7 linked regions of the Homo sapiens genome follow. The protein of the gene in region 2 purifies or fractionates together with the protein of the main gene of each other region. This does not show direct contact. Each region holds a gene or a part of one and is shown on either strand. Other genes may lie near its edges. The genes, in order: TUBB6, TMPRSS5, BDH1, CLN6, DECR2, SLC25A14 and CTBS.

Region 1 (4,268 bases), on a different chromosome or scaffold from region 2:
CTAGCTCAGGTCTGATTGATTGGGGTTCTATGTTTGCCAAAAGCCACCTACTATTTTCAGTTGTTGGTTTCTGCTATTTTAATGAAATAGGTCCCAGGCTATTTTGACAGCTGCCCTGGGTCTTTCCTTTGTAAAATGTGACAGTTCTAGCACCGAGTGTGGACCAGCCCCGAGCTTGTTCCTCCCAATACCTATGTTGTAGTTTTGCCAGGTGCTGCCTGCTAGGTTGGGTGGGGAAGGGGTGGAGAGAAGTTGGTGGGGGCTTAGGAAGGACGGTGACCATTTTCTCGCCTACTAAGAGAAGGCAGTCAGCTAGGATTCACTGTGCAACACAGCTGGGCAGGAAGAAGAGAATCCCCTGTTTGTAAGAGAACAGTCACATACTAGATGCTGTCTACGGCTTGTGAAAAACACAAGGAAACGGCCACCTGAGAGTACTAAAGTGGCCAGGCCCACGGGGTGTGCTGCAAGCACACAGCAGGCATCTGCCTAGCCCGGCCCCTCTGCAGAGCCATAGGGCCTGCCATGCCAGTGACACTGGGCTTTGGACTGCCAAATGGGGCAAAGACAATAGGAGAGAAAGGCTGAGCTGATTTCTCAGTGGGACTGAGACGGAGATCTAGGGAGGCTGATGCTGCAGACAAGTGCAAGGGCCCTCTGTGGTCAGTTTCAGCTGGCCAGTTCTGCTCTCTGGAAACTTCAGTGTTCAATATTTAAATGTGTGGTTTTGTTTGTTTGTTTGTTTGAGATGGGGTCTCGCCTTGTCACCCAGGCTGGAGTGCAGTGGTGTGATCATAGCTCACTGTAGCCTCAAACTCCTGGGCTCAAGCAGTCCTCCCACTTCACCCTCCTGTGCTAGGATTGCAGGTGTGAGCTCCCATAGCTGGTCTTATACAAAAAAAAGTGTTTAATGTTTTCATGTCAAAGTTAAAACAAAGTGCTTGTACATGGTTTTTTCAAACAGTACACATAGATTGTGTATACAGTGCAGAAAGGGAAAGCTGTCATCCCTTCTACTGGTGGCCCCTGAGGTTTTATTCCCTAGGGGGATAACCGAGTGTGTAGACAGTTGTGCTGTGTCCTGCTGACATTTTTCCTTTTTCCTTTTTTTTTTTTTTCTTTTTTTTTTTGAGACGGAGTTTCGCTCTTGTTGCCCAGGCTGGAGTGCAATGGCGCAATCTCGGCTCACTGCAACCTCCACCTCCTGGGTTCAAGCAATTCTCCTGCCTCAGCCTCTGGAGTAGCTGGGATTACAGGCACCTGCCACCACACCCAGCTAATTTTTTGTATTTTTAGTAGAGATGGGGTTTCCCCATATTGGCCAGGCTGGTCTCGAACTCCTGACCTCAGGTGATCCTCCTGTCTCGGCCTCCCAAAAGTACTGGGATTACAGGTGTGAGCCACCGCGCCCGGCCCTGCTGACATTTTTCTGTGTCCATGTGCACCTAGGTGAGCACACAGAGCTGATTTTGTCTGGGGAAAATGGGATCCTGCTATACACACCATTTTGCAGCCTTTTGAAAAATTCATTAATGTATCTCAGACATCCTCCGTGACAGTCACAGTGCCTACCATTGTATATGTCATCATTTAGTAATTTCCCACTTACTGATGACATTTTAAAATTTTTCATTAAAGAAGAGCTGGGCTCAGGCGTTCACACCTGCCATCCCAGCACTTTGGGAGGCCAAGACAGGATGATCACTTGAGTTCAAAAGTTTAAGACCAACATGGACAACATAAGGGGACCCTCTCTACAAAATTTTTCTTTTTTTTGACGGAGTCTCACTCTGTCGCCCAGGGTGGAGTGCAGTGGTGCGATCTTAGCTCATTGCAAGCTCCACCTCCCGGGTTCACGCCATTCTCCTGCCTCAGCCTCCGGAGTAGCTGGGACTACAGGCGCCCGCCACCATGCCATGCTAATTTTTTTTATATTTTTGGTAGAGACGGGGTTTCACCATGTTAGCGAGGATGGTCTCAATCTCCTGACCTCGTGATCCACCCGCCTCGGCCTCCCAAAGTGCTAAGATTACAAGCGTGAGCCACCGTGCCCAGCCAAAAAAATGTTTTTTTAATTGTCCCAGCTACTCAGGAGGCTGAGGCAGGAGGATCCCTTGAGCCCAGGAGTTGGAGGCTGCAGTGGCTATGATTGCACCACTGCACTCCAGCCTGGGTAGCAGTGGAAGACCCCATTTCTAAAATAATAATAATAAAAAATTCCTTTTTTATACTTTAATATTCACTTATCATAAAATAAATGTTTTAGTTAAAATGTCATAAAGCTAGAAATGAACTCTCTTAGGACCCCATCCTTCAAAGACAACCTGTGCTTTCTTAATTGCATTGTAAATGTTTTAATAAAGTAATTTTTTTTTTCATTTTGCTAGCTAGCTAGGTAAAACATTTTCATGGTTTAGGACTTAAAAGGAACAAAAGGGTATATAGTGAAAAGTTGATCTCCTTCCTACCCCGAACTAGTGTTAAGATTCTTGAATGTCCTTTCAGGTATGTTCAGGCAGACGCATATATTTACACACATACAATGGAGCCAGCTGTATACACTGTTTAGTACCCTAGTGTTCCTCCCTGGCTCCCCAGCAACGTATTTTGAAGATCTTTCCATTTCACAAGTATGGCTGCCTCATTCCTGTTGATGGCTGATAGTATCCTCTGCAGAGATACCGCCGTGGATTTAACCAGTCTTCAGTTGATAGGTATTTGGGTTGTTCCCCTTTTTATTATTATAAATTGTTCCTCAGTAAACATTTGTATATATGTCATTTTGCACATGTATGGGTCTATCTAGAAAAACTTACAGAAGTGTAATTGCTGTGTCTAGGGGGATAATTTTGATAGCTGTAGCTCAGCTGTTCTACAGCCCACTGCCCTTGCTATCTCCAGTAGCTCCCGTGGGAAGTGGCCTTCCCCAAACCCTCAGCAGTGCAACTCAGGTGTTTGGATCTCTGTCAGTTTCACAGCAGAAAAATAGAATCTCCTTGTTTTAATTTGCGTTTCCCTTATGAGAAGGGTTTAGCATTATTTCCAGTACCTAAGCTATTGGAATTTCCTTTCCTGTGAGCTGTATGTTTATAGCCTTTGCCTGTTTTCCTAATGGCTGTTGTTTTTCTTACTGATTTAAGGACTTCTTTAGATATTGAAGGAGGGTATCCTTTATATGTGATATGAGTTATTAACAGTCCAGTACATACATTTTAACATTAAGTTCAGTACACTTAATGAAGAATCACAGAATTTGTTTTTTCTTGCACTGAACACCTACAGTGTGTAGCACTGATAAATGCTTCATCCCCCCCAAGAGTAGAGCCACTGTGTAAGGCTGCACTTGTTATGTACTGCAGAAGCCAGGGGTGCCATCAGTAGACCTCATTGTGAGCAGGCCCGTGTCCCAAATTGCATGGGAGCCCCTTGTCCACTAATTAAAGATTGACAAGTGAAAGGCAGCTTGCTTACCCGATGTAGCACTTGGCAGCTCTCAGAGGCAGCCTTGGTGGTTTCACTGCTTCATAGTTCAGTGCCCCCAGGGTGAGTGCAGCATCAGGGATGGACCTGCCCACGTGAAACCAGAGAGGCTGGTCTTTGGCAGTGGCTGTGAATTGTTGCCACCAGCCGTGTGTAGACAAAAGTCAAGTTGGAGTAAGTGGGGAGAGGTCTGTATAATGCAATGCAAGTTTTTATGACTTGAATTAGTTAAATCTGCAGCCCAAAATTTCATGAAAATAAATATTTAAAACATTTTATTAAAAATTAAATTGACAAAGTCATATTAGAAATTAGTATTTCAATTTTCCCAACTCTAAGTATACTGGAATAAATTGCCTTAAAGTGAAAGAGTGAGAGTGTATTTAGTAAGTCTTGGTTAAGCCTTTTTGGTTTACATTCAGAAACAAGAAAAGAATGACTGATGTAAAATGTCATGACCTGCAAGTTAGGTCGTTTCCAATTCTGCTTTCTTCAACATTGAGTTGTTGGCCAGGTGCGGTGGCTCATGCCTGTAATCCCAGCACTTTGGGAGGCCGAGGTGGGCGGATCACTTGAGGTCAGGAGTTCAAGACCAGCCTGGCCAACGTGGTGAAACCCTCTCTCTACTAAAAAATACAAAAATTAGCCGGGTGTGGTGGCAGCACCTGTAATCCCAGCTTCTCGGGGGGCTGAAGCAGAATTGCTTGAACCCAGGAGGTGGAGGTTGCAGTGAGACAATACCGTGCCACTGCACTTTAGCCTGGGCAACAGAGTGAGACTCCATCTCA
Region 2 (4,268 bases):
TGGACAGTTCTTAAGGCTGTCATGTAGCCACAGCCTGAAGAATACCACCATTTCCTTCCTGCCCCCACCCAAACACTCAGACCCCTCCTCATCAGTGGTCCCCAGGACAGGAGCACACCTCCTGCCTAGTCTCCCAGAGGGCAACAGAAGGACTTCATGGTCCTTGCAGATCAACTGGGACATAGTGTGTTTACAGATGAGAAAGCCACACTGTTCCCACTAAGTGTCCTGAATGAATACACACTCAATGAATGAATGAACGGATAGGTGAGTGTGTGGGTGACTAGGGTTCTTCACCCCATGCTCCTTCCTAGGTTTGCTGTATTCTCCACCCTGGTCCCTCTGCCTGGGCTTTGCATATTCATATTCTTGCTCTCCTCTTTCCCCTCTTCTCTCTTAGCTCTTAGTTCCTTTTTTGACCAAAACTCTCTTCTCTTTCTTTACTCACCTCTTGCCCCTAGCAGTCCAATGTCTAGACCCTCTTAGTTTCTCCTAGTTTCCCAAATCCATAGCCCTCCCGGCTCTCCTGGAGGAGTCAGCCCCACCCCTACTTCCATTTTCCCATTCAGGTATCCAAGACAAGAACCCTGTCAGAACCTTCCCAACTCCAGCCACATTCCTGAGCACAGGAGCTGGACAGGAGGGGCCTGAAGGAACAGTTCAAATTGGAAATGTGGTAATGGGGGTGCCCACCTTTCTATCCCAGGAGGCTGATAGGCAGATTGAGGAAGCCTAGGAAGGCACAAAGACCCTCTCCGCTTGTGCCCCAGTCATACCAAACCATCCCCAGGATCTGGGGAAGGGGCTGCTCCATTCCACAGCCCTCTTCTCTAGGAGACTCTCCAGACTACAAGCAACTCTTAGCCAGAGCAACTCAACCATCTCTTTCCTGAAATATCCGAATTATCCAAATAATGTGTGGCAGGATTCAGAGAGCACTTAGCTTGGAGACAGGAGCCTGGTTTCAAGGCTTGACTTAGCTGCTTATTACTTATGTGACCTTGGACAAGACTCTTTAACCTTATTAAGCCTCAGTTTCCTAACCTGTAAAATGGTGATGAGTACCATGTCAAATCTTGTGACAATAATAACCAACCCTACATTTCTTGTGAAGGGCAAATAGCAGATGTGAAGTGGTGACAGACAGGGCTCATGTGAACTGAGTTTGTAATTTCTAACTAGGAAATGTTCCTCTTTGTCCTCCTATCATAGGCCACCAGTGTCCTCCCCACCGGCATCCCAAGAAAGGAGATTTTTGCTGGATTGACCACCAGGAAGTAAGGGACCCCACTCACCTAACAGCCTCAGTAGTCCTACCTGGGCTGCCACGCCTCCTCCAGGAAGCCTCCCAGTCTAGGAGAGAGCTGAGCAAACTCCTGGGAACTGTTGAGTTTGATGTCAGTGAGGTTTACTCCCTTGTGGTGAGTGAGTCTTGGCAGAAGAAGGGAATAGAACAGGAGGAAATCATAACTGGAATATGTACGAGATATAATACTAGTATAGTGACCGCAAGACTGTGATAATGATTACTGCTGGGGTTTATGCTTGTTAAAAAGCAGTAATACTCCAAACAGAGAAATGGGCTGGGGCACCATTGTGCCCAGAGGCCAGAAGATGGCCAAAAAGACCTCTTGACATTTCCTGAGCACATTGACCAGTGACGGGCAGGTAGAGGTCTCCAATTCCCATCCCACACCAGCCAGGCCTCCCCCTTCACAGGACCCACATCTAACTCCTGTTACCTGAGATGCCCAAGGCTCCAGCAGATCTGCAGCCCCAGGGCGGGGCTCCAGCCCTCATGGCAGACCAGGAGCCAGCGTGGCTGATCCCTCACTTGCGCTTCCAGCAAGAAGTCTTCGCTGTTTATTCTGAAAGATACTGAAATCACAGCATGAAAACCACATGGGAGAGGATGGTGGTGGTAGGGTGGGACAGGAAGAGCTGGACCCAGGATTCTGTAGTACTTGAAGAGGCCTTAATGACAGCATCTGGATCACCCAGTGCCAAGTTCCCTGCTCCCCGGAGAGTGAGACCAGTCCCAAGAGCAGTATCACCCCTTTTGGTAGAGCATTTCAGTTTTCTATTTTAACCATGTGTTTTTAAGCGTGGTCTACCATTCATTGTCACAGCAGCCCTGTGCAATGAGTACTGCCATCCTCTCCATTCTGCAGAAGGAGAACTAAGGCATGGAGTTTAAGCAACTTCCCCAAGATCACAGTGTCAGGAAATGATGGATCCAGGACTTAGATCCAGGTCTTCTGATTTCAAATCTTGTGATAATAATAATTACCAGTTGTTGAGTGTATGCTTTTTCCAGGCTATTATGGACTGACTCATGTCCCCGCCCCCAAACACACACACACAAATTCATATGTTAAAGCCCCAACCCTCAATGTGACTGTATTTGGAGACAGGGCCTTTAAGAAGGTGATTAAGGTTAAATGAGGTCACGAGGGTGACGCCCTGATCCAATAGAGCCAGTGTCCTTATAAGAAGAGGAAGAGACACCAGAGAGCTCCCTCTCTCCTCAAGAGCAGAGGAAAGGCCCGGGGAGTACACAGGCAGAAGACAGCCATCTACAATCCAGGAAAAGAGCTCTCTCCTGAAACCGAATTCCACAGCACCTTGATCTTGGACTTCTAGCCACCAGAACGGTGAGAAAATAAATGTGGTTTAAACCACCCGGTCTGTGGTACTTAGTCATGGCAAACCAAACAGACTACTACACAAGTTCTGTGCTGATATCTTTTCTTAGATTAGTTTGTTTTATCCTTAAACAATTTGTGCAGTAAATATTTATATTTCCATTTTATGGAGAAGGAAACAGAAGCAACAAGAAGTAATGTGCCCAAAGTCACACAGTCAAAGACAGACTCCAACCTTATTCTAATGAGGTTATTCTAAGCCCCAGCCTCTGGACAGCATTGTACCTTCTGATCCCCAACTCTTACCTGGAGGGGAGGGGACAATCAGGAGAGGGAGAGTGGGGATGAGGTGGGCTGATGTTCCCAGGTCCCTAGGTGGCCCTGCTGGTCACACACTGGCTCCCACACACACACACCTGATCCCTCCTCCCCCATGTCCCTGGCTCACTCTGCCCCAAATGGCAAGTTTCCATCCCTCCTGCCAGCCTGGTCTCCGGACCTTGCCCCAGCTAGAGATCAGGACAGTCCTCAGGCAGTGCTGAAAGCCCCAAATCAGAGATCACTGCAAGGTGACACCTTGTCACTGCCCTCACACTAGAGGAGGGAAACACATATGGTTGGCAGTGAACAGATGGCCCTTCAGTGTCGGTTCTCTTGCCCTCAGCTGTGACAGGTCCCTGCTGGGGAGGGAGGCCCGTAGCCTTAGGGGTGCAGCCCACCTGTTTTGGGAAGTGCAGGGAGCAGAGCTTCCTCAGCGCTGGCCTCTGAGCAGCTCAAAGTTATCTCCTCATCCTGCAAGGTCCCGGAAATGGGCTGAGAGGCAGCAGGACACAGATACAGCACTTTAGAGAAGAACAAAGAGAAAGGGTCTGATTTCCAAAGGAAGGTGTCAAGGTGCTGACCTCCTCATCAGCCACCTTGCTCTCAGGCAGCTCCCCAACCAACCTGCTGAGGAGGGGCATAGCGCTCCATCTCTCTCGGCCTCAGCCTCTATCTCTGCCTCTTTGACTCTCCTTTGTCTGTCTGTCTCTCTCTCTCTCTCTCTCTCTCTCTCTCTCTCTCTCTCTCTCTCTCTCTCTCTCTCTCCCTCTCTCTCTCTCTCTCTCTGTCTCTCTCTCTCTCTAGCTGTCTCTCAGTATGTCTCTGTCTCTGTCTGTGTGTGTTCTCTCTGTGTCTCTCTCACTGGGAAAGATTTCCAGAAAAAGTCTGACTACGGCCTCCTTGGATCATACACTTTGTTCTTCTTTATGTAGAGCCTAGATCCCTCCTGCTGCAATTTCACCCTTTCTCCCCTTGTCTGCACAGAGTAGTTGAGGAAGACAGTTGTCCCATTTACCTTTAACACCTGCTCAGCACCTGCTTCTCCCTTCCAACCTCCCCCACACCAGAGAAAGGCCCCCAGCACTGACCTAGGAGCCATGAGCCAACACCTGCACCGGCCAGCAGCCCCAGGGCTCCCAGCACTGCACAGCCACGTCGCATGGAACGCCAGCACACTGCCTGAGAAACTGTGGGAAAGGGCAGAGGGGTATCTGGGTCCCCTGCTCCTGCCAGCCTGCCTTACTTCACCCTAAGTCACCACTATGGGGCTAGGCACCCACAGAGCTCCAACAGGACACCTCC
Region 3 (4,849 bases), on a different chromosome or scaffold from region 2:
AATGTTTACTAAGACATTCTCTGGCCACCCCATCTATCCCACCCCAACCCTGACTATCCCCCTTCTCTGCTTCCATTTTTTCCTCCTCCTTGGCACTTTATTACATTATAGCATTCTACATGTTGTACATATTTATCTTGTTTGTTGTTGTTCAGTCTCATTAGAATATAAGCTCTTTGAGAACAGGAATTTTTGTCTGTTTTGTTCACTGTTGTATCTCCAACATGTACAGCAGTGCCCTGCACACAACAGACACACAATATTGATTGATTGATTCATTGAGATGGAATCTCGTTCTGTTACCCAGGCTGGAGTGCAGGGGTGCAATCTTGGCTCACTGCAACCTCCACCTCTCAGGTTCAAGCAATCCTCCTGCCTCAGCCTCCCAAGTAACTGGGGTTACAAGCATGCACCGCCATGCCTGGCTAATTTTTGTATTTTTAGTAGAGACGGAGTTTCACCATGTTGGCCCGGCTGGTCTCAAACTCCTAACCTCAAATGATCTGCCCACCTCGGCCTCCCAAAGTGCTGAGATTACAGGTGTGTGCCACCACGCCTGGCTGGTACATAATTAAATGAATTAAGAGAGTTTTGGCTGGGTGTGGTGGCTCACGCCTGTAATCCCAGCACTTTGGGAGGCCGAGGTGGGCAGATCACGAGGTCAAGAGATCGAGACCATCCTGGCCAACATGGTGAAACCCCGTCTCTACTAAAAATACAAAAATTAGCTGGGTGTGGTCGCTCGCGCCTGTAGTCCCAGCTACTTGGGAGGCTGAGGCAGGAGAATTACTTGAACCCAGGAGGTGGAGATTGCAGTGAGCCGAGATCACGCCACTGCACTCCAGCCTGGCAACAGAGCAAGACTCTGTCTCAAAAAAAAAAAAAAAAAAAGAAGAGTTTTAAGAAGAGGAGTGCCATTATCAGACTTACATTTTTAAAAAGGTAACTCTCACTGGGTTAATAAGTTGAGGATGGACTAGAGCAGAAGCAGGGAGACCCATTAGGATCTGTGGCAGTAATCCAGGGCCACCATGTGCAGTCATGAGGGTTGTATATTGCACCACTGCAGTGAGATGTGAAAACGTGTTCCTTAGAAATGTACACCAGCCTTGGTGAAAACCATGGAACTGATTAGAATTGGTAAGTCTGGCTTTATATTGAAGGTAGAGTCCGCTACCATTTACCAACAGATTGAGTGTAGGATATGAAAGAAGGAAGAATCAAAGCCATTTCCAAGATGTTTGGTCTAGGTGTAACAAATGACAGTAGTGCAAATGATTAAGCAGCCTTTCTATTCACAAGTGCTTACTGCATTTCAAACCCGAGGACACAAGCTGAGCCCCCGAGTCCTCACCTGGCTCCTCCAAACCGTATCTCCAACTATACTTTTCTCCTCTACTCATTCAACCGTTTGCTACACCATCCCTCAACAAGCCCTGTACTTTCCAATTTTCGAGCCTTGCTCATCCTATACCAAACTGACTGCATCTGACCAAGTCCTAGCTGGTTCAGATAACTCTCCCGAGCAGCCTTTTCTAATCCCCTAATTCAAAAATCTTTCGCCCAATCTCCTCCCTTCTGTGCCTCTGTAACTGCACCTACCTAGCCAGGGTCGTATTCGAGGGATTTCTGTTTATAAACATTCACAAGCCCCCATCCTACCACCAATCCCCACCCGGACTGTGAGCACCCTACAGACAAGACCCAAATGTTGAATCACTCTCTTCTTGCTCCTCCGAATATTTATTGTGTGACGCCTGACAGGAAGTAGAGGCTCTGTAAATGTGTATTGAGTGAATATGAAAGCTTCACAAATTTCAAGGGTCAGCTTCCTTGGCGGCCAGGGATATATACGCCCTATGCAGAGCCCGGCTCCAACGCCTCTTGTAGAAAGAAGGACACTGACCAGGACATTTGCAGCGTCACAAAAGATCCTGTCAGCGCGAGGCCTGCAGGCGGCCCTCCATAGTGAAATATGTGCTTCTGCAACCCCTCAAAGTAGGAACTGCAGGGTGACTCTGCATCAGCTGACTACAGGCAGATTTCCAGGCTGACTGGCTGGAAAAGAAAAAAAAAAAACGCGGAGTTCGACGCCGCGCGCAGCACCAAACACTTCCCCAGAAGGGCGCAGCCTGGAGGCGGCCGCGCGCAGGACGCACGCCCAAGGCGCCTGGGCCGCTAGGGACCGACCGGAGCGCTCAAACCCACAGGGTATCTATCAGGCGCGCGTCAGCACGTAAGCAGAGCGCGAGAACGCCCGAGACGGCGGCGCAGCCAATCCCAGAGCAGCGCTCCCCAACGGCCGGCCGGAGGGCGGGGAGAGAGGGGGGCTCGGCCAGAGCCACGCTTCCCATTGGTTGAGACAGCACCGCCCAGCCAAAGCCCCCTTGTCCTCGCGCGGGTGCGCCGCCTGGACTCCCACCCTGGCCAGTCCCGGGCCCACCACCACTCTGGCATCCCCAGCCTGTCCCCGCGGCTCCTCCTCCTTCCCCGGCCCTGTGGCCTGCCTGCTGTCCAGCATTCTTCCCCAGGGCGCTGTGGCGCGGAGGGAGGACTCCCCAAACCCCGGGAACAGAGCCTTGCGGAGGACCCCGGAGGAGGAGGAGGAGGAGGGACGCGGACGGGACTGGGAGATTCGGTCGGGAAGGGGACAGGGCCTAGAGCCCGGGGCTAGAAGGCAGGACACCTGGCTTCGGTCTGGGCTCGGCCTTTGACTACGACGTGACCTTGAGGACGGTTCCTTCCCTTCGTGGGGCCTGGGTCCCCTTCAGTAAGATGCGCCGGCAGGAAACGATGAGTCGTTTCACCTGGGAGCTGCAGGGCCGCGTGTTTAACCCAGGGCCTCCTCCTGCCTGGCACATTATTCCGAATAATAAATGCCAGATCATGCTGCTGGAGACGCCGGCAGAAAAGCCGAGAGGGAGACTCCCTGGGGTCTGGGCGCGATCGGCCATCCTACCCTTACCCCGCTGCGGCCGCAGGGCTCGGCCTGTAGGGCGCGAGCCCCCCTTCCCCACCCGTATCCCGGCTTCGGAGCTAAAGGAACACGTGAGGCCGAACCAAACCGAGTAGAGGGCGCCAGGGAATCCCGCCCGAGCTGCAGAGACGCGGACCCCTCCTCTTACCCAAAACCAAATGGGCAGGGGGCTCCGCTGCAGAGGGCTCGCCGAGGCTCTCGCCTTCACCCGGCGCCGCGCAGGTGCCCGCTCTCCTGCGGGGAGAGCCGAGGGGGGGCGCTGCCGCAGGGTCTTTCTGGAAGCCCCTCCACCAGCACTCCTGCGGCCTGCGGCCTCCGCCACCCGGACGCTTCTACACGCGAAGCGCGCGCTGGGGCTACGCTGGGCGGGGCTCACGGCGGCGTGGCTGTCGGGGGGCCGCCGAGCCGCCTCCTCCGCGCTGGGTGCCCGGCTGGCGCTCCTCCCGCCCAAGGTGCCCTGATCGCTAGGCTCCCGGTGCGGCCGTCTCGCCCCTAAGCCGGGCGCCAGATCCCCCGCCGCCTTCTCGCTCCCCGACCGCTGGGCGGGGGCGAGGGCCAGGGAGATGGAGCCAGGTGCGGAAAGGGTTGCAGCCTCGCGGGCTGAGGCCGGAGGGTGAAGGCGCCGCTCCTTGAAGTGAGGAAAACTCCGGTGAGGAAGAGGCTCTTTCCAGGTCCTGTGCGTGTTGCTGTCTTTAGAGCTCATTAGGGTTGGTTGGTTTTTAAATTTCTTTTGATCAGATGAATTTATTTAAAGGCCGGGGGCGGTGGCTCACGCCTGTAATTCCAGCACTTTGGGAGGCTGAGGCAGGTGGATCACTTGGGGTCAGGAGTTCGAGACCAGCCTGGCCAACATGGTGAAAACCAGTCTCTACTAAAAATACAAAAGTTAGCAGGGCGCGGTGGCGCACGCCTGTAATCCCAGCTACTCGGGAGGCTGAGGCAGGAGAATCGCTTGAACCCAGGAGGCGGAGGTTCCAGTGAGCCGAGATTGCACCATTGCACTCTAGCCTGGGCGACAGAGTGCTCCGTCTCACAAAAACAAAAAAATTAAAGATTTGCTTCTCAGGGTCTTTAAAAATAAATTAAGAATAGCAGTTTCCCAGAGTTTTAATAATAGAACAACGGAGGGCCATCGGCCACAGATAAGGGTTTCCTCCCAACCCCACCCCACTGCGCTATCGCCCTGCGCCAGCACACCTCAGTTTCCAGGATGAGAAACAGGCTGAGGAGAGAAGACACCAGGACACATTAGTGGCGAAGCTACGCGAAAGGAAAATAAACCTTGGGGCCCCCAAATCACTAGGCTAAAGGGGAAAGTCAAGCTGGGAACGGCTTAGGGCCAACCTGCCCCCATTCTACTCAAAATCACCCCCTGCTCACTGAGATAAATGCATATCTGATTCCCCCTTTGGAGAGGCTCATCAGAAACTCGAAAGAATGCGACCATTTGTCTCTCATCTACCTATAACCTGGGGGCTCCCTCCTTGCTTCGAGTTGTCCCACCTTTCCAGACTGAGCCAATGTTCATCTTACATATGTTGATTGATGTCTCATGTCTCCCTAAAATGTATAAAACCGAGCTGTGTCCCAACCACCTTAGGCACATGTCAGGACTTCCTGAGGCCATTTCACTTGCGTGCATTCTTAACTTTGGGAAAATAAACTTCCTAAATTGATCTGGCTCAGATTTTGGGGGTTCACAACTATGTTTAGGTAAAGTACAGAGAAGGAATGAATAGAATGAAGAGAATGAATGAAACTTGCAAATACAGGAAGATGAAAACAGGAGGAGGGAAGTACTGGCATGATGAAGATTTAAAGAAAACTGTAGACCGGGTGCGGTGGCTCACGCCTATAATCCCAGCACTGTAG
Region 4 (3,887 bases), on a different chromosome or scaffold from region 2:
ATGGGCACCGGGGCTCGCAGGCTTGGGGCTCGGTATTGCAGGGATACAAGCTTCGGTGCTCTCAGGCTGGGATTCAGTCCTCCCCGTCTGCTGACTTGCTGAGTGACTGGCGAATCATTCTACCTCAGTCTGTGCCTCAGTTTCCTCACCAGCTGAATTACAGGGCAGCTGGCAAAATCAAGTGGCCAGCGCACAGCCGGTTCCCATCCTGTGCCAGTTCAGTTCCCACCTTCTGAGGACTTTAAGGGTGGTGGAGGGGCCTGAGCCGGGTCTCCAGCCCCACCACAGGCTCCTCGGGGGCTTGGAGTGAGGCCTCTTAGTGCCGGTTACCCTGGCCAGGAAGGCTCCCCTTTTCTTCCTTCCCTTCCTCTCTCCACCCTCAGCCCCACCCCTTCCGCAGAAGCTGCTGACGCTCCCAAGTCTTCAGGAGTTCGTGCTGCTCCCCTCCCCCACATAGGAGGAAATGGGGGCAGGGTGTGAGGCCTCCCCAGCTTCTTCCCCTTGAGATCCCATTTCCCTGTTTGGGGCGTGAGGCTTTTGTCCACAGCTGAGTCTATGAGGCTCTACAAGTAGGTGTGGCTGCACAGGTGTGCCCTACACAAAGGCCCCCAGCCCAGGTGCGAGTGGTTGCTGGCCAGGGGCTGCACTGCCAATAGGAAGGGGGGCATTGTGCCACTTTGCACACAGGCGCATAGACGGGAGGCGCTGCCTGTGCCCCACTCTCCCCTCCCCGCTCCTTTCCTGACCGCCTCTGTGTGGAAAGTGTGCTTTTCTCCCAAATCACATCCCCAGAATCGCTTTACACCTGTTTCTAGACCCAGAGAATTTTAGCTGGGGACTCCGACTCCTCCCTGTCAGAGTTTGAGGCTCCCCCTCCCAAACCCCATGGCAGGGATAAGAGGAGGGAAGGCTGCCTCTGTGCAGAGGATGGAGAGAAGGACATCAAGGAAAGTCACTTGGGACTCTGGAAGCCTGAAGGCGGCCAGGCCAACATGCTCCCTCTGAATCCCCTTGCCTGTGGGAAGGGGCTCCAGAAGAGATGAGGTGCCTCCTTGGAGTTAGGCCAGTGTGTGCTGGGGTGCCCCGGCCAACTCCCTCCTTATGTGTGTAGGTGTCTCCGGGGGTGACGCACAGATGGAAAACACCAGCGTGGGGCAATGGCTGCGTGAGGGTTCACGATACAGCAACTCACCATGCTGTAGGGCGCACCGTGTGTGCTACACCTCAGCACGAAAGGGAGAAAAGACAAAAAACACCTCTAACACCACTTGGGGCTGTGACTGTATTTACTTCATTCTTGAATCCCGCGTCCCCGTGGCTGGGGGCTGACACATCCCTGGGCACCACTGTGACTTCCTGTGGGTCCCTTCCCTTCTGTCCCTGACTCTGTAGACCCCCCACAGGAAGGGTCCTAGGTAGGGGGAGGTTCCTCCTCCCTTGAAACCCTGGGCCACTCTGTCAAGGCAAAGCCTCTGGGCCCAGCACCTTGTAAAGGCTTTGATGAGAGGAGCTCTGGCTTTTGCTCAGGGCCTTTGGCACCCCACCCTCCAGCCCCCAGGAATGCAGGCGCTCAAAGCCTGTGGCTAGGCTGCCCGAAGCGCGTGCCGCAGTTCTTCTGGAGTGGGAGCAGGGGGACAGAGCTTTGGGTAGAGGAGGGTCACCTGCAAAGCTGGAATGCCAGGGGAGTGGGCGGTGCCTCCAGCTCCTGGGGGCCAGGGTGTCTCCATACCTCATGGGCCTGAGCCTGGGCAGGGGTCTGGAGTGCACATAGCCCCCAGGCAGGGAGAGGGCAGTGACAGGACAGAGCCACTCATCTGTCCCAAAGCTGCACCCAAGGGGTGTCAGCAACCCCAACCTACTGACCTACTTTGGGACCACAGGCCCATCTAGTGCAAATGAGGCCCAGAAAGGAGAAATGCTTTGCTCAACAGCCACAGTAGGCTGACGTAACCTATGTAATGTAGGGTCAGGGTGGGCCTGAGGGATGAGCCAGGTGGTGGGCAGGTGACACACCAGGTCCCCTCCTGGCCTCTGCCCCACCCAGCCCTCTCCTGCACGGCTACCAGAAGATGTCCGGGAAGAACAGACTAGCCCTGAGTAGGGAGTGTGGTCAGGTGCAGAGGAGGGCAGGGGCCCGGATCCTGGCCCAGAAACACTCTAAAACAGAATCCGATCCTGAGATGATCCAAATCAAACAGAAACTTGACGGAAATAGTAGAGTCTGAAAATGATGCACTCTGCGCACACATATACAAGACACACACACACACACACACGAATCCACGCACACGAGGCACACCCCACTCATGCTCTCGGTCTCTGGTTACACACCCACACCCCCCCTACTCCTGTATTCAGATGCCCTCCATGGCCCACCCTCCCACCCAGCAGAGCGCCAGAGCCTGGTGCCAGGGACTCAGTGCCGACTGCTGACGTGAAGGGTGTAGAAAGCCCAGGGCTCAGGGACGTAGATGACACCCGGGTACTTCTTCCTGAGAACAGGGTCATTCCACAGCCAGGCGACCCAGAGCGCCACAAGCAAGAGGGTCAGTGCGAAGGAGGAGAAGAGGAAGAGGCCGTTGCTGTCCAGGAAGAGGCGCTTGCGCTTCTGGTGCAGGACGAGGGCCAGCATGGCGAAGAAGGTGAAGATGAAGAGGATGAAGATCTGGCCCTCGGTGACCAGGTACCTGGAAAGGCCAGGGGTGAGTGAGGCAGCTGCCGTGGCAACCCCGTCCTGCCTGGCATCCCTTCCTGTGTGCGAGAGCCAGGCTGCCCTCCAGGCAGGCAGAAGAGTCCTCTGGTGCCAGGGCTCAGAGAACTATGCCGCTCTAAGCCACAGCCCATGGGCAGCATATTGATTTAGCTGGTATAGTTACTGTTTTTTAAATGTTGAGTTTGTTGCCAATATTTAAATAACAGAATACCTACAAATGTATATTTCTGGCTTCTCTGGTCACATTAAGTTTATACTTCCACACAACAAAAACTGACTAGAGGAGAAAGCAACAAACAATTGCCATTACGACGGCAGCCACCCCCGCGGCAGGATGCCGGGGTAAGAACCAGCAGGAAGCGCTCCCCTAACGTCTTTCCCGCTCACTGTAGCTGCCACCCATTCTTTTTAATCCCCAGAGAGCATACAGATGAGCCCCAGTGGGCCATCTCAGCCACATAGGGGACAGGCCGGGGAGAGGATCTAGAGCTGGCCCAGGAAAGGAGGCCCTTTTCATTTTGAGGGAGGCCTCCCATCAGAGAAGGGTCCAGTCCTGCCCCGACCCTGTCCTTCCCATGATACCCACAATCCCAGGGTGACCTGTCTCCAGGGCAGAAGTGACAGACGAGGGCTAGGAGACTGGCTGAGGCCTAAGTCCTCTGCAATGGGAAGAAGAGAGAGCCAGAGGGAACAAAGACCCAAGGCCAGAAGCCCCTACGCCATGAAACCCCCCAGTCTGGCCTCGCCATAGTGCTTTACATTTGACAAAGCCCCTCTCTGTCCTCAGCATCCTCATCATCTGAGAGGCAGACAGGCAGGTACCATCATCCCCACTTCACAGAGGTGGAAACCGCAGCCCACTACAGGGCTTGGTGTCGGAGGTGGATTGTACCGGCCCCAGGGCAACACTGGGGTTCTTGAGATGGGGCACAGAGCGAGAGGGGCTTGAGGATGGAGACAGACTGTGCAACCTCGCCCTCTCCTCCCACCTCCCTGCCACACCCAGGCCTGGGCTTCATGGAAACAAAGAGGCCACCACAGGGCATTGTCACAGTCCCCACTAGACACAAGAAGAAGCACGGGCCCAAAGAGGGCCAGTCTCCCTGGGGCCACACAGCAGGTCCATTGGCAAGTGCAGAATTTTGCTGCCGTGGCTCTCTCAGTGCCCCTGCCT
Region 5 (4,268 bases), on a different chromosome or scaffold from region 2:
GGAGTTTCAGAACTTAGTAGCCGGCTGAGGACGGCTTCCCCCTAAAACACCTCGGCTGCCTCGGCCACCCAGCACCTGCCAGAAATGCCGGCAGAGGCCGAGGCCGCTACAGAAGAGCAAGTACACCAGCGCCCGCCTCCTGCTCAGCCCCACTGGGCAGCACCCATGTGTGGGCAGGCTGGCGCAGGGGCCGGGAGGATGGGGACAAAGGAGACGCCAGCCCCGTGGGTCCCGCAGAGACCTGCCCATGCAGTGACCAGCGTCCAAGGACACAGATGACCCCAAGAAGCGGGAGCAGTACCTCACCTAGAGCTTAGCAGAGAAGGATGCGAAATCCGGCAGCCCTTTGACACCGTTTGGGAACGTCAACCATGCCCCGCCATCGGCCACCAGCACGGCCCCCGTCACGTAGGAAGCCAGAGGGCTGGCCAGGTAGAGCACGCTGTGGGCGATCTCGGTCTTGTTCCCCAGCCTCTGCAGCGGGCTGGCAGTGACCTTGGTGCTCAGGCTGGCCTGAGGGCCACCTGGAGGGCAGCAGAAGGCTCAGGCCCCGTGAGCCCCAAGACCCAGCACCCTCCCCTCTCCCCCAGCTCATTCCCTGAGAGGCATCTGGGAACAGCAAGGACACAGTCAGTGTCACCAAGGCCTAGCATGGAGCAGGATCAGGCCAGGCACAGAACATAGTTGCCACCATGGAACCAGCACAGGGCTTTTCAACATACACCCTGCCAAGGTTCTGGAAGCTTCATGGGCACCCTGTGCCCCAGGAGAGGATCTGTGGGAGGCCTGGGCTCCCTGAGAGCCTTACCCAGTCGCCGGAGCCCCTCTGTGCCACTGATGGGGCCAGGGGCGAGGCTGTTGACGCGGATGTTTTGGGGACCCCACTCCACAGCCAAGTGCCGCGTCATCGCGTCTGCACAGAAGAAAGTTGGATATGAAAGGGCCGCTCTGCCCTCTGCGAGGGCGCAGGGCCAAGGCCAGGTCTCGCTGCCTGCAGCTGGGCTCAGCTTCAAGTGGAGACTGCTGGCCTCCTGGGATGGAAGCAGACGGCCCATTGGGGACCCACGTGGGCAAACCTGGGCGGGGGGGGGTGGTCATACCCACAGCGGCCTTGGCGGAGCCTGCATGCACCTGGAGCGCCTGCCCCCGGTTCCCCAGGGTGGCAGTGATGTTCACGATCACCCCTCCGTGGTCCTGCAACACACAAGGCCCGGGGCAGTGAGCGGGCGGGTGTCGGGGGAGGTCACAGGACAGTGAGCGGGTGGCTGTCAGGGGGAGGCCCGGGGCAGGGAGCGGGCGGCCGTCAGGGGGAGGCCCAGGGCAGGGAGCGGGCGGCCGTCATGGGGAGGCCCAGGGCAGGGAGCGGGCGGCCGTCAGGGGGAGGCCCCCGCTGGGAGTACACCCACCCGGAAGAACTTCTCACAGAGCGCACAAGGCACCCACCCGGAAGAACTTCTCACAGAGCGCACGAGGCACCCACCCGGAAGAACTTCTCACAGAGCGCACGAGGCACCCACCCGGAAGAACTTCTCATAGAGCACACGAGACACATTGAAGGTGCCGCTGGTATCGATGTCCATCACGGTCTTGAAGGCGTTGAAGGACAAGGCGCCAGCGGGGCACAGGAAGTTCCCGGCCGCACCTGCAGAATGGGAGACCGCAGGAGCTGCTGGAGCCTGGGGAGAGGGATGCCAAGTGGGTGGTGGCCAGGTGGGCAGAGCGGAGGGTGCAGGAGGGAGCCCAGGTGCCCTGTGGCACAGGGAGGAGACCCATGCCCTAGGATAAATTCCAAAATGACCAGAGCAAGACGGGCGTCCTGGCTGCACTGTGTCCCCGAGAAGAGAAGACATGCTGAAGCCCTGGCTCCGTACCTGCGACTGTGGCCTTGTTTGGAAATGGGGTGGGTTGCAGAGATAATCGAATTACACTGAAGTCACAACGAATTAGGGTGAGCCCTAAATCCAATGACCAGCATCCTTATAACAAGGGAAGAGGACACACAGACACACGCCACGGGAAGACAGTGGCAGACAGTGCAGCGACGGTCTCCGAGCCCGGGAGGGCCAAGGGCTATGGCAGTACCCGAAGCCACGCAGAAGGCAGGAAGAGGCTCTCCCCTGGGGCCTTCAGAGAGCATAGCTCTGCCGACGCCTTCCCCTTGGACGTTCTGGCCTCCAGAACTGGGAGATTATATTTCGGTTGTTTTACCCACACAGGTCGTAGTACTCTGTTAGCCCAGGAAACTAATACACAGGATGTTTTTAAAAGGGAATTTCTGCAGAGTGAAACCAGTGTTGGTTCATCAATTGTAACAAACGCAAGATGTTAACAGGGAAAACTGTAGGTGGGAGTATGGAATTCCATATACTATTAATTATTCTATAAACCTAAAACTGTGATTTAAAAAAAAAAATCGGCCAGGCGTGGTGGCTCACGCCTGTAATCCCAGCACTTTGGGAGGCTGAGGCGGGCGGATCACGAGGTCAGGAGATCGAGACCATCCTGGCTAACATGGTGAAACCCCATCTCTAGTAAAAATACAAAAAGTTAGCCAGGCGTGGTGGCAGGCACCTGTAGTCCCAGCTACTGGGGGACTGAGGCAGGAGAATGGCATGAACCCGGGAGGCGGAGCTTGCAGTGAGCCAAGATTGCGCCACTGCACTCCAGCCTGGGCGACACAGCAAGACTCTCTCAAAAAATAAAAATAAAAATCAATAAAAATAAAAAATAAAGAAATAAAAATAAAAGCTGGGGGCCAGGCGCGGCGGCTCACGCCTGTAATCCCAGCACTTTCGGAAGCCAAGGCGGGCGGATCACCTGAGATCAAGAGTTCGAGACCAGTCTAAACAATATGATGAAACCCCATCTCTATTAAAAATACAAAAATTAGCCAGGTGTGGTAGCGGGCGCCTGTAATCCCAGCTACTTGGGAGGCTGAGACGGGAGAATTGCTTGAACCCGGGAGGCGGAGGGTGCTGTAAGCTGAGATTGTACCATGGTACTCCAGCCTGGGCAACAAGAGCGAAACTCCCTCTAAAAAAAAAAAAAAAGCTAGGCCAGGCTAGCTTCTATTTTATTGATGACTCTTGCTTGTAATCCCAGCATTTTGGGAGGCCAAGGCAGGAAGATTGCTTGAGCCTAGGAGTTTGAGACTGGCCTGAGCAACACACACTAAGACCCTGTCTCTACAAAAAATAAAAAATATAAAAATTAGCCAGGCGTGATGGCACACGTCTGTAGTCCCAGCTCCTCAGGAGGCTGGGGCAGGAGGATGGCTTGAGCCCAGAAGGTGGAGGCTGCAGTAAGCCATGATCACACCAGCCTGGGTGACAGAGTGAGATGCTGTCTAAAAAAAAAAAAAAGGCTATTACTTTTTTTTTTAAAGACGGAATTTCAGGACACAAGGGCACCCGACTCTACCATTGAGCTGTGTTCATGGCGTCCACTTGGGCTGCAGCTGTGCTGACCTGCTGCCACCCAGAGAAGCGGAGTCAGGCCGGAGACAGAGGGCCAGAGACAGAAGGCGGGACACAAAGGCCTGGAGACAGAGGGCCAGAGACAGAGGGCCAGAGACAGAAGCCCGGAGACAGGGGGCCGGAGATGGGGCCGGAGACAGAGGCCCAGAGACAGGGGGCCGGAGACAGAGGCCCGGAGACAGAGGCCCGGAGACAGGGGGCCGGAGACAGGGGGCCGGAGACAGAGGCCCGGAGACAGAGGCCCGGAGACAGGGGGCCGGAGACAGAGGCCCGGAGACAGGGGCCCGGAGACAGAGGTCCGGAGACAGGGGGCTGGAGACAGGGGCCCGGAGACAGGGGCCCGGAGACAGAGGGCCGGAGACAGAGGCCCGGAGACAGGGGCCCGGAGACAGGGGGCCGGAGACAGAGGCCCGGAGACAGGGGCCCGGAGACAGGGGGCCGGAGACAGAGGCCTGGAGACAGGGGCCCGGAGACAGGGGGCCGGAGATGGGGCCGGAGACAGAGGCCCGGAGACAGGGGGCCGGAGATGGGGCCGGAGAGAGACGCCCGGAGACAGAGGCCCAGAGACAGGGGGCCGGAGATGCGGCCGAAGACAGAGGCCCGGAGACAGAGCCCGGAGACAGAGGCCCGGAGACAGGGGCCCGGAGACAGGGGGCCGGAGATGGGGCCGGAGACAGGGGGCCGGAGCCTGAGTCTTGGCCTCAGGTACCTGGATGGGGTGCAGCCCACCCCAGCACAGGCAGCTAGGTTCCCTGGCATGGTCCCCACCCCATGACCAGAGTTCTAGGGCCT
Region 6 (3,707 bases), on a different chromosome or scaffold from region 2:
AGCCTCAGTAGTTGCCAGAGGTTAGGCGAGAGGAAGGAACGAATAAGAGGAACATAGAGGATTTTTAGGGCAGTGAGACCATTCTATATGATTCTATAATGATAGATACATATTACACATTTGTCAAAATGTATAATGCCTTATCCTCATGGTGACATAGACTCTTCCTCTGTCTCACCTCGAGTGTCATTTGTGCTATGAAGCCTTTGGCAAATCCTCTAGGTAAGGCTGTTCCTCCTCTGTGCTCCCACACAGCATTTTGTTCATCTCTCACATAGTACTTAGGTCCTACTGTAATTATTTACTTACAAATCTGTTCTTCCACTATGATGTGAGCTTGAAAACAGACACTATGTCTTAGTCATTTTATAGTCCTAGACATAATAGATACATAATAAATGTTGAACAAATTAATGAATGGATAAAGATGAAGAACTATTAATTCCACAAATATTTGAGTGCCTACAATGAGCCGGGCTCTGTTTCAGTACAAAAAAAGTAGCCAGAACTTTGTACCTGTAAGATGATTAGAACCCTGGGAACAGGCTTCTATTTTAAGCCTTTTTTTAGCTTTTTACCTGTAGGAACTTCCAAATGAGCCACTTGCTTGTTTATTCATGTTTAAGAAAGAACCACCTGCCCAACGTTTAGCAGTGGCATTATGACAATGAATGGCAGTGGGAAAGCACAATGCACTCATTCTCGTCTCATAAAAGTGCACTTTAAGAGTCCAGTCTCAATTTCATAGTTATCTTCCTTTATTATTCTCTGGAGAATGTAACTTCAAGAGTTGGCAAAGGAGAAAATAGTAAATGAAGACAAAGCCAAAGTGATTCTGCCAATAAATACTTTAATGAGAACCGAGGTCTGTAACACATATAGCAATAACCACCCTGGCCTATGCCTTCTGCTCTAGCCCAAGTCTGGGGCTAACCAATTACATTTAACCACATTTGGAAAGCAGGCCGTTTTCAATGTCACCCATCAGTATCCATCTTCATAGAAGATACCAATCTGGGGCCAGAGTCTCAATGTTAACACTTTCTCTCGGGGAAAAGTTAACATGGTAACACAAACATAGAAATAACTTTGAACCACCCCACTGTTCTTCCATCAGGAGGCCCTTAGGAGACCAACGGCTTGGTAAACACTTACAACATTGTCAAAATACATTAGAACACGGGAAAAGGGCAAAGGAGTAGAAAGGCTGGCAGGGCTGGGCTCACATATAATTCAGTTCTTAGATTTGAAGCCTCTTTAGCTGCTCGTATGTAATAAAAAACTGAGGAGTAAGTCAAGGAAGATCACCAGGTTGATATCGAAAGCCAAAGCTAGTTCTAAAATTAGCATCGCATTCTCTTAAATTAAGGTAGTCTATGCTATTCCAAGCTGCATCTGCTTTAAAATCTTTTCTAAAACACCACCTGACAGCCGGGCGCGGTGGCTCACGCCTGTAATCCCAGCACTTTGAGAGGCCGAGGTGGGTGGATCACGAGGTCAGGAGATCGAGACCATCCTGGCTGACATGGTGAAACCCTGTCTCTACTAAAAATACAAAAAATTAGCCGGGTGTGGTGGCGGGTGCCTGTAGTCCCAGCTACTCGGGAGGCTGAGGCAGGAGAATGGCGTGAACTCAGGAGGTGGAGTTTGCAGTGAGCCGAGATCGCGCCACTGCACTCCAGCCTGGGCGAGAGAGCAAGACTCCATCTCAAAAAAAAAAATAAAAATAAATAAATAAATAAATAAAACACCACCTGTCAAATCAAGCATGCATTGAGTGCCTACCATGTGCCCATTCAGATCACTGGCATCGAACAACATAAACAGAGTAAAACTCTAATATATTTATAGTCTTCAGGGGGAAACAGGACAAACGCACACACGCACACACACACAGTAACCAAGAACATCAGTGACGACATATAATTAATTAGATGATCAGAGTGATTCCAAGAGGGAACGAGATACCCTCTCTCTGTCTACAGACCCCACAAGGGCAGAGAATTACTTTCCAACCCTGCGGTGCTTACCATTATACACACAACACCACACACAGTATCCAATACATGGCTCTGCACTTAGGAGGCACTCAAACACAACTGGAGGAGACAGATTCACCCATGAAGAAAGAAGCCTGCTTGGCTGTGGATTCCTTCACCCCATGAATGTCTTCTGTCCTGTTTTTATTTCCCAGCTATTTTGGTCCTATAGTTAGGGGTAGGAAATCTGAACCACCTCAGCATGGACTTTCCTGTAGGCTTCGTCCATCAGGGTTTCTAAAAACTTCATAGCCCCTTCCAGATTAGCTGTGTTTGTTGTCATTTTGTTTTAAAGAGTAAAGTTTGACATATCTTTTCTATCCCTTTTAGTTTGTATTAGCCTCCAACTGAAAGCTGTTTCTTTGCTTAATTTGATTCTCAAGGGTCACCAATGGGATGCTTGAGTTTCTCACTAGCCTAAAAGGCTTTAATAATCAAATTTTCCTTCCCATAGCCTAGAATTATCTGGGAGCTTGAAGCACTTGCTTTCATTCTCTCAAAGGATACAATGATGTTCCAGGGTCCAAGCCGAAGCCAGTTTGGCCAAAATCCTTTATAGAGTGCAAAAAAGCCCTCATGTTTCCACATCTGCAGGAAAGATATAACCAAAAACAGAGTGAATTCACCTTTCTCTACATTTGACATCACCTTCCACTCCCACCCCAGGGCAACTTATGGCTCCATGAATAGTCTTTTCTCTAAAGGTCCATTTTAAATTCATCTGTAGTCTAAATCCATCCACCCACTTAATCAATAAATATTTACCTACCATACATATGCAAAGCACCATTCTTGATGTTGAGAATATACTAATAAACAAGACAGAAAAAGTGTCTATGGTAGCCAGCCTCCAAGATGGCCCCCAATGAACCCTACCTCCAGTTATTTGTACCCTTGCGTAGCCTCCACCCCATAGTATTTGGTCTGTGTCACCAACAGAATATGGTAGTAGTGAACATATGTCACTTCCATAGCTAGGTTATAAAATATATTTTATATATAATAAAGCATCTGCCTTATTCTCTCTTGGATTCATTCACTCTAGAGGAAACCATCTGCTATATCATGAAGAGAGGACTACATGGTGAGGAACTGAGGGCTCCAGCCAACAACTGCATGAGTGATCACTGAAGCAGCTATCCCAGCCTGTCAAGGCTTTAGATGGCAGCAACCCTAGTTGCCATATGAACTACAACCTCAGGAGACAGCCTAAGCCAGAATCAACTCAGCTAAGCTGCTTTGCAATCCCTGGCCCACAGAAACTGCAAAATAACAAATGGTTTAAGGCAATGAGTTTTGGAGTAATTTGTTACACAGCAATAGGTAACCTATACAGCAGTTTCTACCCTCATGGAGTGCATATTCTAGTGGGGCTGACAAATACACAAATTGATATATATTATATCCAAAAATAAGTGCCACAAAGAGAACTAAAGCAGGGTAAGAAAATAGAAAGTTGGGCAAGTCATTATTCTTCTCTGAGTCTGTTTCATCATTATAAATTCTATATAATGCCATAGCCTACCTCATGTGAATGCTTTGAGGATTACATGAAGAAAAATGTGAAGTGTTTTGAGTTTTGGTTTCCTACTTTATACAACAGGGGTCTTATATACATGGTTATGAGAATTAAATGATAAATTATGCATAAACGTTGTAAACTGGTGG
Region 7 (4,787 bases), on a different chromosome or scaffold from region 2:
GCTAGCTTCTTAGAATAGTACCTAGGTCAAATTCTAAGGCACCTGATGTTGTGTTTCTCTGATATTTTCTTCCCACAGTTAATTCAAGAAGCACAGAAGCCTCACTGATTATTTTTATTTTATTCCAAGGCATTAATTCATTGATTTGGCAAATATTTATTGAATTTCCAATAAGGTACAAGGAGAGTATTTTGCTAGGCTCTAAGGAGATAAAGATTAATGAGAGAGACCAGGTCCAGTAAGGAGTTAACTACTTAATTACAATGGTATTAAGGACTGTAGGGGTTACAGGGGGCCACGCCAGCATATAAAGGGGACCTGCTAGCCAGATGGTGCACGAAAACTTTTCTGAGGACTACACACTTTCGGAGTGGGCTGAAATCAGCAGAATGATGGAAGAGATATACCTATGGACAAAAGATTGCATTCTCAACTGAGGGAAGGGAAAGCCCAAAGGTCGCTACACCTCAGGAGAATTCTGAGATTCTGGAACTGAAAAAGGTCAATGTAGGTAGAGCACAGAAATCCTGCAAGTATGTGGAACTGGATAAAACCTTTAAAGTCGGTAGTGGAAAGATTAAGTAGGACTTCCAAGACCACTGAAGATGTTGTATTTTATCTTGGGATCAGTGGGAATCAATTAGAGTTTTAATTCAGGGGATATGCATTACAAAAGAGATCACTGGGTCCTTGTGAGGGGAATGAATGAGGGAGAGACAGTGGGGATAGCAGCTGTAAAAGTTAAACCAGGCATTTCTTAATTTTTTTTAATTTTTTTTAACTTTTCAGAATTAATTATGCATAACTCATTTTTTCTGCTAAGCAATTGCCTACTGAAATAATAAAAATTCATAATGTGAAATTAAGTGGCCCATTGTTTTCTGACTCATATTTCTATCAAAACTTCTATTTTAGTTCTGATAATTAAGATTCTATTTGTTTAAAAAATACTAAGAGCCTGTGATATAACAGATATCCTTAAAAAAAAAAAAAGCTGGGTGAACTAATTGAAAATATAAGGGGAAAATGCCATGTAGTCTAGTTTTTGTGTTTGAAAAACATAGAAAACGCCAGTAGAGAAAAAGACCATTTACCATGAAGATACAAATAAGCATAATTTTGCTTCTTTGAATAGTTGGTTTTCAAAGTGCCCACAGATATTGCCTAACCCACTAAGTATTGGGTACTACAGTAAATCTTTCAGGTTTTTTTTTTTTCTCTTTTTTGAGACATAGTCTTGCTCTGTCGCCCAGGCTGGAGTGCAGTGGCGTGATCTTGGCTAACTGCAACCTTCCGCCTCCCGCTCCGCCTCCCAGGTTCAAGCGGTTCTCCTGCCTCAGCCTCCCAAGTAGTTCGGATTACATGTGCCCGCCACCACGCCCAGCTAATTTTTGTATTTTTAGTAGAGACGGGGTTTCACCATGTTGGCCAGGCTGTTCTCGAATTCCTGACCTCAAGTGATCCACCCACCTTGGCCTCACAAAGTGCTTCTCAATCTCAAAAAGAGATTGAGAAAATTAAGAAATGTCTGGTTGAACTTTTACAGCTACTGTCCCCACTGCCTCTACCACCGCGCTGGGCCTCAGATTGTATAAAACATTTTAATTGGGAGGCCATTATGCTGAAACAGCTCCAACTGCCTTGGATTTCCTGCTTAAGCAAACTCCAGCCCAAGGTCAACAGTGAAAGGAAACTTAAGCTTAACCTATCAGAAACTGCCAACTAACCTCTAACTAGTAATTTTCCACCAAGTCATAGCTAAATAAGGCAAACAGTCATAGCCAACCAAGTAATTATTTTCCTTTGCTTCCCTGTTCGGCCTATAAAAGCCCATGCTACTAAAGCAGACCTCTCTGAACCCCTTCTGGTTTAAGTACTGCCGATTCATAAGTTGTTCTTTGCTCAAATAAAAAAGGTTATCCTACTTTGTCTGAAGTCTTTCTTTTAATAAGATGTTAGGTTTCCACACTAGGCAGGTTCTCCATAAACACTTTCACCATTTTTATTTCTTCTCCTAAGTCATGTATATATACTTTTTTACTGGCATCTAAGTGTTCTGCCTCAGATTAATGTACTAGATTAAGAACTAGGAATCATGCCTATTTCTACAAAAGAATCGTTCTTTGAATTAAGCCTTTGGACCTTCCTGATGTCATCCAATTCCTGCTTTCAGTCATCGAAGTGGGCAGTCAGGTGGTTTTAATATTGCTCCAGAAGGTGTTTGATTAAAGTTGCCAGAAGCCTTACAAATTGTTATGTAGATAGAAGGAAAATGTACTGAAAGCTATTTTTTTTACCACTCTTCATGGGTGGTTTTGAGGTACTTTAAAGGAAAGGGCTAGCAGGTATAGAAAACTAAAGGTAAGCAAAATACTCTGCATTCTAATGTACTGTTGGAGTGCTGAGATTCTTTCAAACGAAATCCTCGTTCCTTGGAAACATAAATGGATTATCCTACCTTGTTTGCTTTTTACACCCAGAGTGCTTCCGCAGAGGCACAGCAGGGGAATGAAAGGAGCTTGCCTTAGGAGGCAGATCTGGTTTGAACTCTCGCCTGCCTACGCAGGCACTTACAGGCTGTGAGGCCTGAGGAGTTACTCAACTTCTCTGAGCCCGAGCTTCCTCATCTATAAATTGAAGGATCCGTAAACAGGAAGGCCCTCATCGAGTGGTCAAAGCTGGTTTCGGCGCCCACGGCACCTCTCCTTAGGGCTCCGTTCTACCCTAACTTCTCTTCGTGCCCTGAAGCCCAGACCTAGAGGAGCAGAGGAAGGCGCTGACCTCGAAATCTGGATGGTGGCGAATCGGGCGGCAGAGCTCAGGCTCCGGGCATGGGCAGTCGGTCCCGGCCGCGAGCCGCAGCGCCAGCAGCGCCAGCAGCGCCAGCAGCGCTAGACCCGGGACGCCGCTCGGCGGGCTAGAGACGAGGCGCCAGCGTCGAAGCTGCGGCCGGGACATAGCAGCAGGTCTAGCGGGCCGGAGTGGGTTCCTACCGCCTGGGTGGGCGGGGCCTGCTGCGCGTCGGGGCAGGAAGGGGCGGGGAGAGTCGGGAAGGGCGGGGAGGGGCGGGAGGGGCGGGGCTCCGGGGCGGGCGTGGGAGGTCGGGCTTCGAGCGTCCCCGGGCGCTACAGGTGGGTGAAGTTAAGTGGCTGCTGGAGCGTCTCGGGGGACAGCCAGTGTCTGCGGCGCCGAGAGGGCCGTTCGTGGACTCAAATGGGTATCACCCCTACCGTTTATAGTCCTCCCAATAGTCTGCATCTCGTTTTGTCGTGGCTGGTCGTGTACTCCTTGTGGAGTCTGAAGGTACAAGGGGATCCCCAAAATGGAGAAGTGGGTGTCTTTGGAAGGGCCTACTGAGTAACATGGTTGGAGTGGCCAAAAGACTTTGTTTTTCTTTTGCTACTCAAAAGAAAGCTGGAATACCAAAAATTTTTACTTACGGATATCAGGTCTTAGTTAAGATCGTGGTTTGAATTCAAGCATCTAATTTTGCCTACTCTCCTGTTAAAAATCAAGTTTAACAACCTAAACACAAGGACAAAGAGATAACAGCAACAAAATGTTGGAAGCTGGAGAGCACAAGTATGAGTATGAGAGGTAAATCGGAAAAGGGGGAGATTAGTCAAAGGCTGCTCAAGGACTCTGATCGCTAGATCCTTTTTCCAGCTTCATGTCTCTGGGCAGCTGCCCCTCTTTCCCACCACGGGCTCCCACCCCGGCTGAATTCCCTGAAGGGGATAAATTCTCTGCTGAGTGGGTATTCCACCTAAAACGGAGAATAAGTGGCTTTATGCCTACTGAAAACTGAAACCCCTCGCTATCTGATTAACCTAAGAGGCTGAGCAAAGATACTGACATCGGGTTTTCTGGACAAATCATACACCCAGATCACCCTACAGTGAAATTCAAAGTTAAAAGCACCAGCTATCTACTTGGAGCTTCCTCTCTTTGTACTTTTTAATTTTTACTTTTAATCATGGACAGCAACCAAAAAAATCCAATAATGTAGAAAGAAGGGACCCAAACAACAGACAAAGGAATATGGAGGAAGCAGATGCTGCAGGGAGAACACTTTTAAAAATTCTCATAATAGCCCCAGAAAAATAAGAGAAGATGAAGCCACAACAGGGTGCAATAAAAGGGGTAGGGGATTTTTAAAAGTTAATAGAAATAAGAAAGAAGTGAAAAAACTATTAGTAGAAGATAACACTGAGGAATGTAGAGCAAAAACTCTGAAAGATAAGAAAATTGGAAAACGCAGTACAGAGGGGATGAAATAAATAATTCTTAAAGGTGCTTGAGAAGCAGCGTAGTACAAATAAGAAGAAATAAGTAATTTGGGCTGGGCACAGTGGTTCATGCTTGTAATCCCGGCACTGTGGGAGGCCGAGGTGGGCAGATCACTTGAGCTCAGGAGTTTGAGACCAGCCTGGCCAACATTGTGAAACCCCATCTCTACTAAAAATACAAAAATTATCTGGGCATGGTGGCAGACACCTGTAATCCCAGCTACTCGGAAGGCTGAGGCAGGAGAATCGCTTGAACCTGGGAGGTGGAGGTTGCAGAGATCACACCACTGCACTCCAGCCTCAGCAACAGAGTGAGACTCTGTCTCCAAAAAAAAAAAAAAAAAAGAAAAGAAAAGAAATAAGTAATTATCAAGGCTCCAGGACTGAAGAACACGCGTTTTCAGAATGAAAAGCTAGGCCAGGCACTGTGGCTCACACCTGCAATTGCATAACTTTGGCAGGCCAAGGCAGGAGGATTACTTGAGGGCAGGAGTTTGA

What was found.
Region 1: the proteins of TMPRSS5 (region 2) and TUBB6 purify together in Homo sapiens (affinity purification with mass spectrometry; one large-scale study listed by BioGRID and IntAct). This does not show direct contact.
Region 3: the proteins of TMPRSS5 (region 2) and BDH1 purify together in Homo sapiens (affinity purification with mass spectrometry, with the first as the bait; one large-scale study listed by BioGRID). This does not show direct contact.
Region 4: the proteins of TMPRSS5 (region 2) and CLN6 purify together in Homo sapiens (affinity purification with mass spectrometry; one large-scale study listed by BioGRID and IntAct). This does not show direct contact.
Region 5: the proteins of TMPRSS5 (region 2) and DECR2 purify together in Homo sapiens (affinity purification with mass spectrometry; one large-scale study listed by BioGRID and IntAct). This does not show direct contact.
Region 6: the proteins of TMPRSS5 (region 2) and SLC25A14 purify together in Homo sapiens (affinity purification with mass spectrometry; one large-scale study listed by BioGRID and IntAct). This does not show direct contact.
Region 7: the proteins of TMPRSS5 (region 2) and CTBS purify together in Homo sapiens (affinity purification with mass spectrometry; one large-scale study listed by BioGRID and IntAct). This does not show direct contact.

The regions. Positions count from the first base shown.
Region 1 is NC_000018.10:12,318,031-12,322,298, forward strand, and holds part of TUBB6 (tubulin beta-6 chain), read left to right. Parts: intron 1-2,505; exon of another isoform or gene 2,506-2,632; coding exon of another isoform or gene 2,633-2,714; intron 2,715-4,268. UniProt on the Homo sapiens protein: Tubulin is the major constituent of microtubules, a cylinder consisting of laterally associated linear protofilaments composed of alpha- and beta-tubulin heterodimers.
Region 2 is NC_000011.10:113,695,541-113,699,808, forward strand, and holds part of TMPRSS5 (transmembrane protease serine 5), read right to left. Parts: intron 4,154-4,268; coding exon 4,055-4,153; intron 3,488-4,054; coding exon 3,365-3,487; intron 1,879-3,364; coding exon 1,743-1,878; intron 1,432-1,742; coding exon 1,318-1,431; intron 1-1,317. UniProt on the Homo sapiens protein: May play a role in hearing.
Region 3 is NC_000003.12:197,552,656-197,557,504, forward strand, and holds the start of BDH1 (D-beta-hydroxybutyrate dehydrogenase, mitochondrial precursor), read right to left. Parts: upstream 3,314-4,849; 5' UTR 3,126-3,313; intron 2,853-3,125; exon of another isoform or gene 2,687-2,852; intron 2,059-2,686; 5' UTR 1,907-2,058; intron 1-1,906.
Region 4 is NC_000015.10:68,205,724-68,209,610, forward strand, and holds the end of CLN6 (ceroid-lipofuscinosis neuronal protein 6), read right to left. Parts: intron 2,688-3,887; coding exon 2,417-2,687; 3' UTR 1,269-2,416; downstream 1-1,268.
Region 5 is NC_000016.10:407,617-411,884, reverse strand, and holds part of DECR2 (peroxisomal 2,4-dienoyl-CoA reductase [(3E)-enoyl-CoA-producing]), read right to left. Parts: intron 1,643-4,268; coding exon 1,518-1,642; intron 1,195-1,517; coding exon 1,101-1,194; intron 914-1,100; coding exon 809-913; intron 525-808; coding exon 307-524; intron 1-306.
Region 6 is NC_000023.11:130,370,484-130,374,190, reverse strand, and holds the end of SLC25A14 (brain mitochondrial carrier protein 1 isoform 1 precursor), read right to left. Parts: intron 2,628-3,707; coding exon 2,547-2,627; intron 1,283-2,546; coding exon 1,241-1,282; 3' UTR 834-1,240; downstream 1-833. UniProt on the Homo sapiens protein: Transports inorganic anions (sulfate, sulfite, thiosulfate and phosphate) and, to a lesser extent, a variety of dicarboxylates (e.g. malonate, malate and citramalate) and, even more so, aspartate and glutamate and tricarboxylates.
Region 7 is NC_000001.11:84,571,458-84,576,244, forward strand, and holds the start of CTBS (di-N-acetylchitobiase precursor), read right to left. Parts: upstream 2,984-4,787; 5' UTR 2,959-2,983; coding exon 2,782-2,958; intron 1-2,781. UniProt on the Homo sapiens protein: Involved in the degradation of asparagine-linked glycoproteins. Hydrolyze of N-acetyl-beta-D-glucosamine (1-4)N-acetylglucosamine chitobiose core from the reducing end of the bond, it requires prior cleavage by glycosylasparaginase.